Linked DNA regions of Homo sapiens: region 1 is linked to region 2. The links come from fine-mapping of genetic effects on gene expression. A gene starts in region 2. The other region holds a variant in brackets. All regions are shown on one strand. Distances are between the middles of the regions.

What was found. PIP is the estimated chance that this variant, and not a neighbour inherited with it, causes the effect.
Region 1: its variant is the best candidate, but not a certain one, in a credible set for the expression of ARGLU1-DT in prefrontal cortex (BrainSeq, PIP 0.72).

The regions. Positions count from the first base shown.
Region 1 is chr13:106,546,129-106,549,048 of GRCh38, reverse strand. All of the region lies in intron 3 of ARGLU1 (arginine and glutamate rich 1), which reads left to right. Among named protein-coding and RNA genes, the nearest start is that of EFNB2, 12 kb to the right of the region's middle. The variant A/G (reference allele first, on the strand shown) is at 1,291.
Region 2 is chr13:106,616,101-106,619,020 of GRCh38, reverse strand. It overlaps ARGLU1-DT (ARGLU1 divergent transcript), which reads right to left and starts at 1,211. Exons shown (of 4, transcript NR_051977.1): 1 at 988-1,211.

The DNA of each region.
Region 1 (2,920 bases), 70 kb after region 2:
CCGGGCACAGTGGCTCACGCCTGTAATCCCAGCACTTTGGGAGGCCAGGGCAGGCGGATCACAAGGTCAGAAGATCTAGACCATCCTGGCTAACAAGATGAAACTCCGTCTCTACTAAAATACTACAAAAAAAGGAGCCGGGCGTTGTGGCACGCACCTGTAGTCCCAGCTACTCGGGAGGCTGAGGCAGGAGAATCGCATGAACCCGGGAGGCGGAGGTTGCAGTGAGCCAAGATCGTGTCATTGCACTCCAGCCTGGGCAACAAGAGCAAGACTCTGTCTAAAAATAAATAAATAAATAAAATAGGGCAGAGATTACTGGGAGGGGTAAGTAGGCCTTTTAACTATAATGGAACATTTTTTTGTGTGTGTACTTCTTACCACCAGTCACTCTTTAGCTTGGGGTACAAAGTTGAAAGCCACCTTTGTGAGATTGAACAGGGTTATGGGCATAATGGCTAGGAGGGTCTGCCCCAGTGTATTGGTTCTGGTATTGTGGATGTTAGCTTTCTCCTTGGCCTCCAAGCTGTCCACTACGTAATCCTTGTGAGTGAGTTGCTTAGTATTACTCATCTGTATAAATACATATATGCATCCCCAACCCCCCATGCAAATACTGCTTTCTTGTGCATAAATGTGAAACAAGCAGGGAAAGGAGCAATGGTTGTATTCTCCGGCAAGTCAAGTCATCAGGAAAGAAAAAGTTACTACAGAGAGAGGGTAGGATTTAGGAAAATACCTAGCAAATAAGGTATAGGGTCATACCACACTTACAAGTGGTGGATGAACAGGAAACCAGCTTTTATCACTTGAGAGACTATATTAAAATGAGAGATGACGGTTGTTAGTGTTTGAATAGTCTTTTTTTTTGTCAAAGTGTAATTAAGATTTATGCCTAAAGCCATAGTAGAACAAAATACCAATATTTGTATATAGACAGTATATTCAACTAATTTTTAAATCATTGCATTAAATACTTCTAGTAGGCACTGTATGCCTAGCATTGGTGATTAACATTGTTGAGCCGTAGTCCCGGAGAAAATCAACTCTGCTGTACATACATACACAACACACTTTTGCCTTCTGTATTTGTAGACCTAAGTGAAGAAACTTGATTCTTTACCCAATCTAAAGTGCAGAATTAGTATTTTATCTGAAGGAAGTTGCTTTACTTTAAAAATCTTGTTTTTTTAATTAGGCAAAATGATCACATGGTTCAAATTTTGTTTTTTTAGGAAGAGAAACAGTGAAGTCCCTTTACCTTACCCCCAACCCAATCCCCAATTCCCA[A/G]CCCCGTCTCCAAAAGTGTACTCAGTTACGGGTTTTTAAAATCTTTTCAGAATGTCTGTAAAAGCATATTCAGGCAGATACAAATGCATAATATTTTAATTCTCCCTTTATTGCACAAAAGTAGCATGTACACAAGGAACTTTCTTTTTTTCATTTAACAGTGTAACTTGGAGATTTTTCCATTGCGGAACATAGGGGCCTCCTTTTTTCCTCTTACTTGTTTTTAATGGCTATACAATATTCTCCTTTATATATCTTCAGTAATTTATTTAGTGTACCCCATATTGGTGGATATTTGGGTTTTTTTCACATTCTTTTCTTTCTATAAACTGTGTTGTAATATGTAACCCTGTAAATATATCAGTTTCGCATGGGTGCAAAATTTGCACATTGCTGTACAAGTACATAATGTAAATTCCAGAAAATGTACTTGCTGGCATAAAGTATTACGAAGATGTAATTTTGATAGTGTGAGAGTGCTCTTTATATGATAGCATATGTGTGTTAGTCCATTTTTTGCTGCTCTAACAGGGTAATTTATAAAAATATTTGGCTCAGGGTTCTGGAAGCCGGGAAGCCTAAGAACATGGCACAGGCATCCCATGAGGTTTCCCCATGGTGGAAGGCATCACATGGCGAGCAAGCTAGACAGAGAGGGCCCTAGAGAGAGAGAAAAGTGGTGGCCAGACTCGTCTTTTTATCAGGAGCCCATTCCCATGGTAACCAACCCACATCCCACTCGGGTAATAACAGAATTAATCCATTCATGAGGATGAACCCCTCATGGCCTAATCACTGCTTAAATGCCCCACATCTTAATACTGTTAACAATGCCAGTTAATTCTAACAGCGACCTTTGGGGGACATACTGAAACCACAGCAGTGTGCTGTCACACTTTGAATTTCTGTCTTCTAGGGTAAAAAATGGTATATTTGTAATGTTCATTAGATTTCTCTTATGGATTAAGGTTGTGATGTTCTTTATGTACCCTCACTCTCCAGGGCTCTAGGATGCTTTCCTAGGGTTGAGTTAGAACCTTAGAAGAAAGTGAATCTGAGTATTTATATTGATAAAATGTTTCTTAGGCACACACACACATCCAAAGAACCCTTACTACATCTTGATTCAGTTGCACACACTAAGCTCTTACCCCAAATTTGTGATGATTTATTAAAACTGGATAAAGTGATTGGCATATGAATTCATTAATGATGACCGATAGCAGGCAGTTCTTTTTGTTGTAATATCAGTGAAAGCCTAAGGAAGAGAGTGGCTATTTGAAATAGATTCTGATGTACAGGTAGGATTTCCATAGAAGGAAAGAATGGCATGAGCAAAAGACGGGGGAACAAGATAGAAAGGAGAATTTAGAAGAGGAGTAGAAACAAAGCTGGAGCCAGGTTATAGAAAATCTTGTCTTAGAGAAACATTATACTTTAGGAAGTTAAGCTGTATGCCATGGACAGTGGATATCATTGGCAATTTGAGAACAAGAAAGAGTGAGCAGTGGTCAAGAAAGGTGAGTCTGGCAGTATCGTGTAGGATGGATTGAAGGACACACTGGAAACGGGCACCATTTTAGATGTACAAAAGATATGTGGCCCTAAACTGATGAAGCTGGCAAAAGAA
Region 2 (2,920 bases):
GGTGGGACACTGCAAACGTTCCATAAATATTTTTCGATGAATAAAGATTCATATTTTAGAAAGCTTCCTCTGGTAGCTTTGTAAGAGCTGTGGATAATGGACTGAGGTAGGGGGGCGGGGTGGAAAGAGAGAGCAGAATTAGACACCAAGGCAAAAAGTAGGGAACATGCACGAATTTAACGCATGTCCACTTCCAAACAGGTTGTGATATTGGTGCTGGGAACTGAAGTACAGAAGCCTGGATCCACAACGTACGAGCCATGGGGACTTCCATACAAGGCATGCACAGGTATCGTACAGATATAGGACTTGGGGGTCGAATCGGGAAGTTGGGGAGGTGATGCAAACAGGTGGGAAGTCCAAAGAGGACTGGTACAAACAGAAGGATAAACCAGTGGGTGGGAATCATGGAGATCCGAGGACAGGGCACAGCATCTGTAGTAGGAAGTAGATGCAACACTCCCCGCAGCCCCATCCCCCCAAAGAAAGGCAGACCCAAGAAGAAAAAGCCTGAGAATAGAAACCTTGGAAGAATAAATGTATAAAAGGGGGCAGACAGATTAAAAGGAGTGAAAAAGGGGCGGTTGTGGCTGCTGTGATGCCCAGGCAGACGCTGTCATCCTCTCCACAGCTGAGAGTGTTGGTGGGTTGGGGGGTGGTTGTCAGGGCTCCCCACTGGGTCCCTTCCTGGAAACGGCTCCCAGCTGAAGACAGCCACCCTGCCCAAGTTCATAGCACCATCCCAGGGGCAGCTGCATCCAATGACTGGTGCACAAAGGTGGGATGCAGAGGCCTGGCCCCTTGCCTCATGGTGATACAGCTCTGGGAGGCCCTCCCAGGTCAGACTCCATGCAAGATTGACCGATTCCTCTGCTGCAACTGCAACAAAGCTCAACATCTCCTTCTGCCCAGTGTTACCGCGTTTACTCCTTTATAGGTATAAGCACTAAGATCACTCCCCAAAAAACTTCTCATGGAAATTTTTACCTGCAAGTCTATTTCCCAGAACTCAACTCAATACAGTTGGTGCCAAGAGTGATCCAAGAAGATGGACTCTGAAGTGGAACTGCAGAGCTGGCTCATCCTCCTGCTGGCTGGCAGTGAAGCCCCGGCCCTGGCTTGCCGGAGAAGTGCAAGTGTCAGAACTTTCACTGGTGATGACCTGGGGTGGGAAAGAGGTGGGAGAGAATACCCTGGTAGATGGCAATCTCCCAGGCTTTTGGGAGTTAGAGAAATTACCAGTCCTGAGAACAATGGACTCTAATGGCTCTGGCTGAGTCACTGGAGGCATTAGAGAAAGACAAAGTGAGGCTCAGGGCTGTGAATCATCATTGAAAGGAAAGTGTGAAAGGGAGAAAGCCTCACTGGAGGCATCGGAAGAGACTCATCTCCTGTAGCAGGAGGACTGAAAAATCTAAGGATAAGGCCCAGGAATTAATTATAAGAATAGCAGCACTTCAAAAAAATTTGAATTCTTAGCTCTGGTTAGTCTGGTTATGGCTATGACAATGTCAGGGGCCTATTAGGGATGAGAGAGACAACAGAATTAATGCTCTCAAAACCTCAACTCTTGAGGTTGGGCACAGTGGCTCACTCCTGTAATCCCAGCACTTTGGAAGGCCCAGGCAGGCAGATCACCTGAGGTCAGGAGTTCGAGACCAGCCTGGCCAACATGTGAAACCTGGCCTCTACTAAAAATACAAAAAATTAGCTAAGCGTGGCAGTGTGTGGCTGTAGTTCCAGCTACTCAGGAGGCTGAGGCTGAGGAGAATCGCTTGAACCTGGGAGGTGGAGGTTGCAGTGAGCCAAGATCACACCACTGCACTCCTGCCTGGGTGACAGAGTGAGACTCTATCTCAAAACAAAACAAAACCTCAACACTCCATTCAGAGCCCTCCGGGCCTACAGAGGTGGCCCTGACCTCCCTGTGAGAGGCTGTGCTCTGCCCTTGCTTGAACATGGTATAGGAATCTCTGCATTGCAAGACAACACAGTGCTCCTCAGGACCCACCCCCACCTCCTGCCTTGACCAGACCCATCACTAGAGTCAAGTGAGACAGCATGTGGAGGGGAAATGCAGAGCCTGCTGAGCAAAGGAAGGAACCATGTGCCTAAAGGCGGCAGGCCAACGTGCAATGGCCAAAGCCAGAGACTCTTCATGGGACTGAATGAGGGGGATGAATCAAAGCAGGGGAAGCATGAAGTTGGAAAATGATGAGTTTATTTATATGGGCACAGTCTACTGTAATAGATGATTTGCCACCCTGGCAAGGACTCTGGGAGATGTTTTCATCACACTGCTAGGATGACTCCTGGAACTTTGGAGAAAATTACAGCCCACATTAAGTAAAGATGAAATGCCACAAGTGTGTGATAGATGATGGAAGAAGAAATAAAACAGATCTTAATCCTTGAGTCAGTTTATCTGACCCAGAATCCACTAATTCAAAGGGAGGTCAGGTTCTCAGGAGCACCCATGGCAAGGGAACACAGTTATGGTTCCAATGGTTCTTTGCCAAATGTGCCTGTGGTCACTTGTTTAAACAACTATACAGTGGAAAAGCAGAATATGCAAACATTTTGAGAAATGCTGGACACAGGGCCTGAGCTGACATTCACACCCAGAGAACTCGGGATTCCTTAGGGCCCTCTATTGGAGTAGGGTGCTTGTGGGCCAGGAAATAAATGGAGTTTCAGCCCTGATCTGGGTTCCAATGGTCCATTTGACTGAAATGCAAGTCAAAACTACAATGAGATATAATTCCACCCTGGTTAAAATGGTTTTTATCCAAAAAATTGGCAATAACAAATGCTGGAGAGGATGTAGAGAAAAGGGGACCCTCTCATACACTTGGTGGGAAAGTAAATTAATACAACCACATTTAAAATACATTTAAAATGTACAAATACATTTAAAAAT